3 linked regions of the Homo sapiens genome follow. The protein of the gene in region 2 purifies or fractionates together with the protein of the main gene of each other region. This does not show direct contact. Each region holds a gene or a part of one and is shown on either strand. Other genes may lie near its edges. The genes, in order: RNF10, NCOA4 and PTH2R.

Region 1 (3,652 bases), on a different chromosome or scaffold from region 2:
GGCGTTCCTCCCGAGCCTTCTTTTGGCGCTGACGTTTCCTCTTCTCAATGTCATCTGCAGATTGGTCAGGTTGTAAAGAGGTAGACCCAGGACAACATGGTCATTACCTCCTCCCAGTATTAGCAGCTAAACCCACAACAGTAGGCCCAGCTGGACTAGATGAACAGATGAAGTGTTTAGGAGGTACTAAGACTCATGATACAGTTCCATAAGTTTCCTCCCCCACTGGGTGTCTAGCCACAAGAATCCCTGAACCCTACTATAAAGAGAAGCAGAGCAGGGGCATTCTCACCTGAGAACATCTCTAGGGTTTCCTTAGAGACCACAGGAGGTTGCAAAGCCAGTTCACAGATGCTGAACTCACAGGTGAGTGGCAAGTGAGAGAGATATCTGTGACGCTGTCGAACATCCTACATTGGAAAAAGGACCAATACTCAACAAAAGCAAGCCTAACTCTGAAAGCAGGGGGTCCTAACCCCGATATCCAACAATATATACATAACACAGCCAGCACTGGGGCTGGAAACAGTAGTGCTCAATTATCCTCATTTTGAAAAGCCAAAGAGAAACTGTCAACCTACAGCAAGGTGGAATAAGCAACCAAATCCAGTTATTTTTGGTTTGTACTGCAAAGGAGTGAACTGAGTCCAGCAACAAATAATCTAAAGCCCATCAGCTGTTTCTGATTTTTTCAAGGCCCCACAGCTGAGGGGGACGAACAGAGAAGATAAAGTTATTTGTTGGCAGAAAAACAGAACAGAAAAAAACCTGGGAACCACTGACAGAATAAATAACTGGGAAGGAAGATAAAGCAGATCTCCCTATTGAAAGACACTTGGCCTGAAATAGTAGAAAATGAAGCCCAATTTTTTTTTTCTGAGACATGGTCTTGCTCTGCCGCCCAGGCCAGCTCACTGCAGACTTGATCTCCCCAGCTCAGGTGATCCTTCTGCCTCAGCCTCCTGAGGAGCTGGGACAACAGGTGCACATCATCATACCCAGCTAATTTTTTTTTGTATTTTTTGTAGAAATGCCCTGGCTGGTCTGAAACTCCTAGCCTCAAGCAATCTGCCTGAGTAGGCCTCCCAAAAGTGCTGGGATTACAGGTGTGAGCTACCACATCCAGCCCATTTATTTTCATTTCTATTCTTTTTCTGCATATGTTTGATGAAAAATTTATAGTACTCAAAGAGTCTAATTTTAAATCTTACAACAAATTTGTGACATTTCTCCCAAGCAATAAGGAGGATAAGAAACAAAAATAAACTCCATCTTAAATAAAAGAAATATCTATATCCCCAAACTACAATCAATGAACCAGAGAAGCAGGGAACAGCATTAACTGATTTAACAGAACCCTGGCATGCTGAGGGGACACTTCACTTACAAAGAATTCACAGCACCATCACTGACAGAAAGACTAAAAATACAAAAACTAAAGGCCTTGAAGGTTTGTGAACTTAGGATGGCTAGGCCTACCTCAAAGAGATTAGGTTAATACTGCTGCCTGACCCTCCATTTCTACAGGAAGGCCTCACCTCAGACATGGAGTAGCCAGCAATCTCCACCACAGTTGCTGAGATCTTCTCGGGGCTCCTCTCCAGGCTGCCGTACTCCCGCACGAGGCAGCGCACATTCACAGGGTGCAGGAACATATGCTGTCCATCTTCCGCTGAGGACAAGGGGCTCTATCACACACCAGTCTTGGCCAGTCCCCAGGAGGCTCCCCACCCCTCCCCATGCCCAAGGGCTCAAGCCACCCAAGCCACAGGATCTAGTGGCGCTCCTCTGCTTAGAGCACCGGGTCACCTCTGAAACACCTCTGCGGCAACCCAGCCCTCTCTTCCGGCACCCTCACCTTGGTAAAAGTAGTAACAAGGAGAGCTGCTGAGGCGTGTGAAGCCTGACTTGGTGATGGGTTCCTGCTGGCTGGACTCAGTGCAAATGGTCCCCTCTTTAAGATTGTCATCTGCTAACTCCAAGTCATCACAGGCCTCTGGCAACCCCTCAGGCTCTGGTTCAGACACTGCTTCCTCCTCTTCTACCAGAGGGAGAGCAAGAGGTCTAGAAGGAGTGTCCAGAGAACAAACTTCCGTGGTTTCTTCATCGAAGGCAGACAGATACTCCAGCACACCCTGTTGCAGCAAACTCTAAGTCAACAGAAAGGATATCTCCTGCTTTCCGAAAGCAATGTGGCAAATGCAGACCTAAGAGCCAAGCTCCCTAGATGTTTATCTTAGCTGTCGTGTTCACTGATTTAACACCCCTGGGGAAAGAACTAATAACAAGCATACAGAAAATACTCATTGTCCCCTCTTCTCTTGAGAAGGTTTAGATCTCACAGTAATGCCTACCAGCTCAATGACAGCATTTGAGGAACGGCAGCCACTTAGTAACAGGAACACACTAACCTTCCTGGGTTGAAAAACAGACTCCTTCGCCAAGGGAGCCATCAGCACCAGTTGTTCCAGAGCAGCCACAACACCAGTGACCTCCCTTCTGCTTCCGGCCAATCCCGACAGAGCCTCTTCCCGAGTCTAACGTGGCCAGAGAGAACACCAGAGAAGGTTAAGTTTCCAGACACACACTTAGCTTGAAGGGCAAGGGCTTAGAATGGCCTCTCAACAGGACCAAAAGTTAAAAGGCAATGAGACCCAATGGGAAGGAATTAGGTGCTTAAATATCTCAACTTTGAGGGAAACAGGAAGCAAAAAGCATGCAATACCCACTAAGGATTGGAATCTGCTTAGAATCTGACACTGGGGAGTGTAAATTAGTTCAATCATTGTGGAAGACAGTGTGGTGATTCCTCAAAGACCTAAAGACAGAAATAAAATTTCACCCAGCAATCCCATTACTGGGTATATAGCCAAAGGAATATAAATCATTCTACTGTAAAGACACATACGGCCAGGTGTGGTGGCTCATGCCTGTAATCCCAGCACTTTGGGAGACTGAGGTGGGCGGATCACCTGAGGTTGGAAGTTCAAGACCACCCTGACCAACATGGAGAAACCCCATCTCTACTAAAAATACAAAATAACCCAGGCATGGTGGGGCATGCCTGTAATTCCTGCTACTCAGGAGGCTGAGGCAGGAGAATCACTTGAACCTTGGAGGCAGAGGTTGTGATGAGCCGAGATCACGCCACTGCACTCCAGCCTGGGCAACGAGAGCAAAACTCTGTCTCAAAAAAAAAAAAAAAAAAAAGAAAGAAAGAAAAAGAAAAACCAAATATCGCACACATGTTCTCACTTCTAAGTGGGAGCTAAATGATGAAACATGGACACATAGAGGGGAACACACACTGAGGCCTATCAGAGGGTGGAGAGTGGGAGGAGGGAGGGGATCAGGAAAAATAACCAATGGGTACTAAGCTTAATACCTGGGTGAAAATCTGTATAACAAACCCCCATGACACAGGTTTACCATGTAACAACCTGCATTTGTACCCCTGAACTTAAAAGTTAAAAAAAATAAAAGAGAATCTGACACAAACAACACTATACAAAAAACTTCCAGAACAGAAATCTAAGAACATGAAACTAACCTAGTTTTTACAAACTATGCTCAGACAGAGGTCCAGAGTAGTAGGAAGGATTTAGCTAACTCCACCTCAGCCTGGACAGCTCTAATTCTATGTAGCCTTTCT
Region 2 (3,652 bases):
ATGAGGCATGTGTTCCTCTTTGTAGATTTAGAGATGAAGACTAAAAGGTACAGAAGGATCTTTGATTACTTTCAAAATAAGCTGCAAACAATCAAGTTTAGAACACTTTGTTTAGAAGACGGAATTTTTAATTTCCCCCTTTTAGGTAGAACTTTTTTTTTTATTTAGGAAGAACTTAAGAATGACTTCACAGCTAGGAAGTTCTCAAAAATATAACATAGGGCCGGGCACGGTGGCTCACACCTGTAATTCTAGTACTTTGGGAGGCCAAGGTGGGTGGATCACTTGATTCCAGGAGTTCGGGACCAGCCTGGGCAAAATAGCCAGACCCCGTCTCTACAAAATATAAAAATTAGCCACATGTGGTGGTGTGCATCTGTAGTCCCAGCTACTTGGCAGGCTGAGATGGGAAGATCACCTGAGCCCAGGAGTTCGCAGCTGCAGTGAGCCGTGATTGCACCTGCACTCCACCCTGGGTAAGAGGGTGAAACTCTGTCTCAAAACAACAACAAAAAAGAATATAACAGATATAGAGATACATGTTTTATATAGAGAGAATATATGTAATATATAATATATAAAAGAATGTGCATTATATGTAACAGATTATATGTGACAAAATGATTTCATGATTCTCATATAAAGGAGACACAGAAATTGGTGTGGGTAAATACAGAGTTCTCTAAGAAGCTTGGGTTTAGGAGCGAAAGGAAACACAAATGGGAAGAACAGCATATAATGATAAAATGAGACTGTAACACATGAGTGTCAGTAAAGCCATAACGTAAAACTTGACAAAAGCTACTGCAAGAACAATGACATGATTTTTAAACACTGAGAAAATGACAGCAGTGATTACTAGAGCTCAGAATAGGTTCACTAAGCCTTGTGATACCAGTTATTTCCTTTTGGATTGTTTTACTAAACTGGCAAGTCAAGGTAATGCTGTAGACACAAAGGGATGACAGAAGACTTGTGGCAAGACTATATGTTATCACTGTGGAAAAAGTGAATATTAGCTAAAGAGAAGCACAATTAAACTGAATAATAAGATTATTTTTTACAAAATACTCAAAGGATGACAGACTAAGGCCAGTTTGTAAAGTTTTGAGAGGCACATCCCTGTTTTTCCTAATTACCTGTATGAAAACACACAAGACAAACATTAAAGCTGGAGGTAACATGGGGCTGTGACAGAAACAGATCCCAAAACAATCTCTACATAGCTGTTCAATTTTACAAAACAAAATGTAAGTTTTTTCACTTTAATTAGGGAGGGCAAGGAAGAGAATAATTCCTTTTTAAAGGGTGGAAATTTTTAACCGAAAGTAAATTCTCTATGAATTCGCAGTGTGCTGGGTCTGTGGGAAAAAATAACTTACACACTATTTGACTACATTTACCAAAAGTATAGTGTTTGTCACAGGATTAGCCTGTTCCATGTTTATTAGACTAAATTCAAAACTTATTTCTGAGTAACACACTTTAGAAGAGGACACTTAGAAAAGGGAGAGAGGCCTCAAAACCATGAAACACTTCTCCAGGAAGGAAGGCTGTTTAGCCTAGATAAGAGACGTCTCCAGGAGGACATGATTACCATTCTCAAGTATGTGGAGACCTGTCAACTAGAAGAACTAAATTTGTTTGGAACAGACACAAGGGGGTAAAAAACATTAATAGGAGGCATGTTAGGCAATATATCAAATAACTTCCTAACAGTCCTGAAAGCAATGACTTTCTTGGAGAAGCCAGCTTTGGGGTGAAAAGTGGCCTACCCAGTGTAGAGTCCTCCAAGTGGCTTGACTGCCCATTTCAGACAAAGGAACTTTGCCAGGCCTTGACTGCATCTTTAAGACTAAGTTTAGGGCCAGGTGCCTAACTGAAAGCTGGCTAGAGACAAAAGTGGTGAGTTCTTCCCTCAGAAATAATGTATTCTGAGGGAAGTGGGAAGAGCAGCAAAACAAACTTTCTGTACACTATCTCAGCAAAAGACTCAGATTCAGGAACTAGAGTTTCCACAAGAAACTGAACAATTCAGGAAATTTTTTAACTTCCCCTTGCTGATTTTGTTTCGTCAGTCTCTTTTCTCCATAATCATCTATTAAAAAGAAAGGGCTGCCTTAATTGGATTTCACAGAAATCCCTGTGGAAATTTTTCTAACCCTGGACACACCAACAGTGGTTACTTTGCAGCCTCCTTTTGCATGCCATAAGCTGCCTGTGTTAGGCAGAAGCATTAGTGTGCACTTGGAACTCACTGCAGGGACTATGAAAAATACCTGTATCACATGGGTGAAATGCCGGCTCCGATTTGGAGAGCTGGAGCGTGATGGGCTGCTTCACTTTGCACTTAGGCCAGTCATGCAAGACCTGTTTAGCAGTCTTTCAAATGTGTTACCCAGCCTTCTTCACCTGTGCCAAATTTCTCACTTTTAGCTTCTCACCATTTGTGTGGAATGCCACAATGCCTGGCACAGTGTAAAATTGAATCAATAAAATTAAATTGTTGCTTCACAATGTCAAAACTCCAGAATTCCGGAACATACGGGAGACAAACTCAAATACATACAGTGCTGACTGTATTACTAGATTCCTAAAGCAAGTCCTCTCAATTCAATCACAAGTATTAATATTACACAATAAGAGTAGACTACAGCAAGAGTTCACACATTGGACTTTGCCCTTATCAGCTATAGACAGAATGTAGGATGAGATTTAAAAGTTACAAAACTGATTTTTCCACACACAGTTATCACATTTTTTTCAAATTAAAAGGAGTGTTATCCTTCAAAAGTCATCTTGAGAACTCATCTGTCAGCCACGAAGAAAATCTGTTTCATTTCTTTATGGTAAGTCCCAGGATGCTTGCCCCTTTGCTGCCTTTGGCTCTCTCTGTCCCTCCTCCTCCCTGTGGCGCAGTTAGAGCACTGTCAGCTTTCAGAGCCCAGATGCCAAGAAAGGAGCTATGCAAAGGCTTGCCCTCTTGCACTGTGATGAAGAGGAAGCCTTCAGAGCGGAAATGAAGAGCCCCAACCATGGGTGAATTCAAATCACAATGAGCCTAAGCCAGCTGTACGAAATGTTACATCCAAAGAGACTTGTATGAGGTAACTAGTTCACATGGCCATTTTCAACAGTTATTCACCATTTGTTTCAGGTTCAAGAGCCAGAGTAGCAAGCATGACCGTTAAGAGGTCACTCTGGAGTCTGACAAACCTGAGTTATGGCTGTGTCTCCAAGCTTGAGACCCCTGAGCTAGTAACATAATCTCTCTGGGCCTCAACTTCCTCAGGAAAAAGGGAGACAAGGATGGTTGCTACAGAGGGGCTGCAGTAAGGTTAAAGTGAGATATTATATGTCTACCGGCACTTAGCCTAGCACCTGCACACCGTAAGCCCTCCACATTGCAGTGGTTATTGTTATCAGGTTTAGCTGACAGGCTGTGAACAGGACCTGACAGAATCCTTTAGCCATTTATCAGGGCTATGACCTTGCACCATTTGCCCTTGTGGAACCTAACTTCCTAATTCATATGTGAGGAATATAGACTCACAGACTTAGGGGTAAGGAGGTCGTGCTTATTTAATAAATATTAGATTTCCATCTAGTCTTTCACTATACAGCACAGCAAAAGGCAATCTTTTATTTACTC
Region 3 (3,652 bases), on a different chromosome or scaffold from region 2:
CCACGAACCCCTCTTTAGGCTTGATTAATTGCTAGAACAGCTCACATAACTCAGAGAAACACTTACGTTTCCTATATATTATTATAAAGGATATTTTAAAGGATACAAATAAACAGCCAGGTGAAGAGACATATAGGGCGAAGTCTGGAAGAGTCTGAAGTGCAGGAGCTTCTGTTCCGGTGGAGTTGGGGTGCACCACCCTTCTGGTAAATGGATGAGTTCTGGTTCACCTTCCTGCAAGCCTCCGTAAATTCAGCTGTCTAGCAGCTCTTTATATCCCATTTTCTTGGCCCTTTTATGGAGGCTTCATTGGATTAGCCTGATTGAAACATGGAAAACGCTTGTTGAGTTTCCCCATTTAGTCTATTAGTATTAGATTACATCCTTTTTGTCCAATCACATTTCTACACCATTGTCCAATCTTAAAAGATCCCATACTGTATAATTCTACTTATATGACATTTATGAAATGACAAAATTATAGAGACAGAAAACAGATTAATGGTTGCCAGGTGTTTGGCATGGTGGAGAGGAGGAGGTGTCACCGTAAGGGACAGAACAAGGAGAACTTTGTGTTGGTGAAATAGTTCTGTACTTGATTACAGTAATGGTTACAAAAATGTACATATGATCAAATGACATAGAACTATAAATATGCGTGTCGCATCAATATTAAATTTCTGGTTTTGATATTTTAGTAAAATTACATAAGATGTAAGCTTTGGAGAATACTGGGTGAAGGGAACCTGGGGCTTTTCTTACACTATTTTCTACTTCTTTTGAATCTATAATTATTTTAAAACAAAATAATTGAAAAGGAATGAACTATTTATACATGTAACGATATCGATGAATATAAAAAACAGTATGTTGATAAAAAAGTATATACTGTAACATGTAATCCTAAGAAGTCTAAGAATAGTCAAGAGGTATATGAAGTATGTGAACAGAGAAAGCTAATTTGTGGTGACAGATATTGGAACAGTGATTTCCTGGGGGTGGATAGTGGGTGTTTTTTTGACTAGCAAGGGGCACAAATGAACTTGGTTTGTCAAAACCTATCAAAATGCTCACTCCAGATCTCTACATTTTATTGCATGCAAATTACAGCTTAAAAAAGTTAAAGAGAATTAGAAATAAGATTCCAAAAATGACATACTATTTCTTTGCCAGTTTATTGGTAAAATAGTCCCATATCATACATGAGCATCTCTTCCCTTGCAGCAAGAATTCTTTGAACGCCTCTATGTAATGTATACCGTTGGCTACTCCATCTCTTTTGGTTCCTTGGCTGTGGCTATTCTCATCATTGGTTACTTCAGGTGAGTGATGCCCATCACTTTTTCCATGAAGGGGCACATTGTCTTTCCTATCCAGAGAAGACATAGCGGTCTCACAATATTTTCCAAATGTTTTCCTCAAATGCAAGTTTTTGAATTCAGCCTAATGTTATTATGTTATTTGACAATTAATTTTTCATGACAAATTCAGGGTTCTTTGTTTAAAAACTTAAAGTATCAAAGTAGTATGAAACCTTTAACCCAATAAGTATGTACTGAAGTATATTTGTTGCAAAGTAAGACAGCATCGAATTGAATGAGTTCCCGAGAGATTTTGGTGCTATTGGACAAAAATTCATCTTAAATAATCTCCCAAATTATTGGATACCAGCACATAAAGAAATAGTATTTATTGCTTTTGTTATGGTTTATTTTTTATCCACTTTAACATGTGTCCAATTCCATTCAACTTAATCGAAATCATTACAAAATTTTGAGCACCAATTCAGTCACCCTTCATATACTGGGATTTCACATCCCCAGATTCAACAGACTGTGGATGGAAAATACTCAGAAAAAAAAGTTTGGTTGTGTTCATACTGAACATTTACATACTTATTTTTTGGGTCATTTTTCTCTAAACAATACAGTATAACATCTATTTACATAGCATTCACATTGTATTTGGTATTATAAGTAATCTAGGGATGATTTAAAGTAACAAGATGATGTACATAGGTTATGTGCAAATACTGCACTATATCATATAAAGGACTTGAGTATCTGCAGATTTTGGAATTTGTGTGGAGTCTCGAACCAGTCCCTGCTGGAGGGGAGCAGGCTGGTTGGTGGTGGCAGCAGTCGCACTGGGTGTTTCCCCCATTTTTAATTTTATCCAAATTTAAATACTGAATATTTCTCTCCGTAGACGATTGCATTGCACTAGGAACTATATCCACATGCACTTATTTGTGTCTTTCATGCTGAGAGCTACAAGCATCTTTGTCAAAGACAGAGTAGTCCATGCTCACATAGGAGTAAAGGAGCTGGAGTCCCTAATAATGCAGGATGACCCACAAAATTCCATTGAGGCAACTTCTGTGGACAAATCACAATATGTAAGTGTTTTCACCATTTTCTCTCATTACTAATTTGTATAACACTACAAATAAGTACAATTTTACAGTCCACTAAACATGTTAACTTGCTTTTACTTATCTCTGAACTAACTAAAATGGATTATCAATTTGTATAGTGATGTTTTCTCCCTCAATTCTGTCCTTTCATGTCTAATCAATCATTTTATTAAAAGTTCTTGGGTTTTTTCCTCAAGAATATTCTGGAATGGAAACTGCAAAATGCACAAGATTGGAATGGTATTTGGCATAGGCACCACAGCAACTGTCATGGGGCTCACCACTTTCGAAAGTAAAAATCCCATCAGCAAAACCAGAAGCTTGCAATTTAAAAGCCCATGATATTTAGTCCCTTTATTGAGTACTCGAAGACTTGTTCCAATATAAAATTTTATGTTACTTGATTCTGCTCTTGAATGTCCTGGTGGTAGTAAATAGATTGATCCAATAATTCACTCAATTAGATCATTGAAGCAATATATCTGAAATTAGGTATAGTAGATTGATTGTCTTGATGGTGTGAATTAATACCCTGTCTGGATCTGTGCCTTTGCCCTGTAACTTTATAGTCCCTGCTGATTCTGATTCTGGGCTGGCACTGAGACTTGCTTTCCCCAACAGAAGGAAGTGGACGCAATAGTGTAGCAGTTGAGAGTAGACCTCTACTCAGTGAGCCTAGCCGAGACAAGCCTAGCCCAGATCAGCCGAACTACCCAGCCCATCCACAGATTTCTAAGATATGTTAAATGTTTATTGTTATAAGTCACTAACTTTGGGGGCAGCTTGTTTTGCAGCAATAGCTGCATAAAAGACCAAAATAAAATAAATTCAAGCTAAAAATATGGGTAACATTTTCTTCTTTATACTTTTCTATATGTTCCTAATTTTCTGTGATGGTCGTGTATTATTTTTATAAAGTGAAAAAATTGAGAAAAGGTGATTTTTTTGGTAACTTCTTAAAGAAAAAACTTATTTTAAAAATAGAATCAAGTTCATAGTCTTGAAAAATGATGCATTAAAATAACTGTTTTGGCCTCTCAACAGTTTTGACTTTACTGTGTAAAGGAGACATATTAGCCTGAAAAAGAAACTGAAGACTTGTTTTTTAGTGGTCTAATGTTGGCATCCAGTACAACAAAGTGTTCTAATATGATGAAATTCTGGTTTATTTGTAATAGATCGGGTGCAAGATTGCTGTTGTGATGTTTATTTACTTCCTGGCTACAAATTATTATT

What was found.
Region 1: the proteins of NCOA4 (region 2) and RNF10 purify together in Homo sapiens (affinity purification with mass spectrometry; one large-scale study listed by BioGRID and IntAct). This does not show direct contact.
Region 3: the proteins of NCOA4 (region 2) and PTH2R purify together in Homo sapiens (co-immunoprecipitation; one large-scale study listed by IntAct). This does not show direct contact.

The regions. Positions count from the first base shown.
Region 1 is NC_000012.12:120,561,830-120,565,481, reverse strand, and holds part of RNF10 (E3 ubiquitin-protein ligase RNF10), read right to left. Parts: intron 2,538-3,652; coding exon 2,412-2,537; intron 2,151-2,411; coding exon of another isoform or gene 2,136-2,150; coding exon 1,859-2,135; intron 1,673-1,858; coding exon 1,539-1,672; intron 411-1,538; coding exon 293-410; intron 55-292; coding exon 1-54. UniProt on the Homo sapiens protein: E3 ubiquitin-protein ligase that catalyzes monoubiquitination of 40S ribosomal proteins RPS2/us5 and RPS3/us3 in response to ribosome stalling.
Region 2 is NC_000010.11:46,017,044-46,020,695, forward strand, and holds part of NCOA4 (nuclear receptor coactivator 4), read right to left. Parts: intron 2,957-3,652; exon of another isoform or gene 2,280-2,956; intron 1-2,279. UniProt on the Homo sapiens protein: Cargo receptor for the autophagic turnover of the iron-binding ferritin complex, playing a central role in iron homeostasis. Acts as an adapter for delivery of ferritin to lysosomes and autophagic degradation of ferritin, a process named ferritinophagy.
Region 3 is NC_000002.12:208,441,140-208,444,791, forward strand, and holds part of PTH2R (parathyroid hormone 2 receptor isoform 1 precursor), read left to right. Parts: intron 1-1,224; coding exon 1,225-1,322; intron 1,323-2,208; coding exon 2,209-2,398; intron 2,399-3,594; coding exon 3,595-3,652. UniProt on the Homo sapiens protein: This is a specific receptor for parathyroid hormone. The activity of this receptor is mediated by G proteins which activate adenylyl cyclase. PTH2R may be responsible for PTH effects in a number of physiological systems.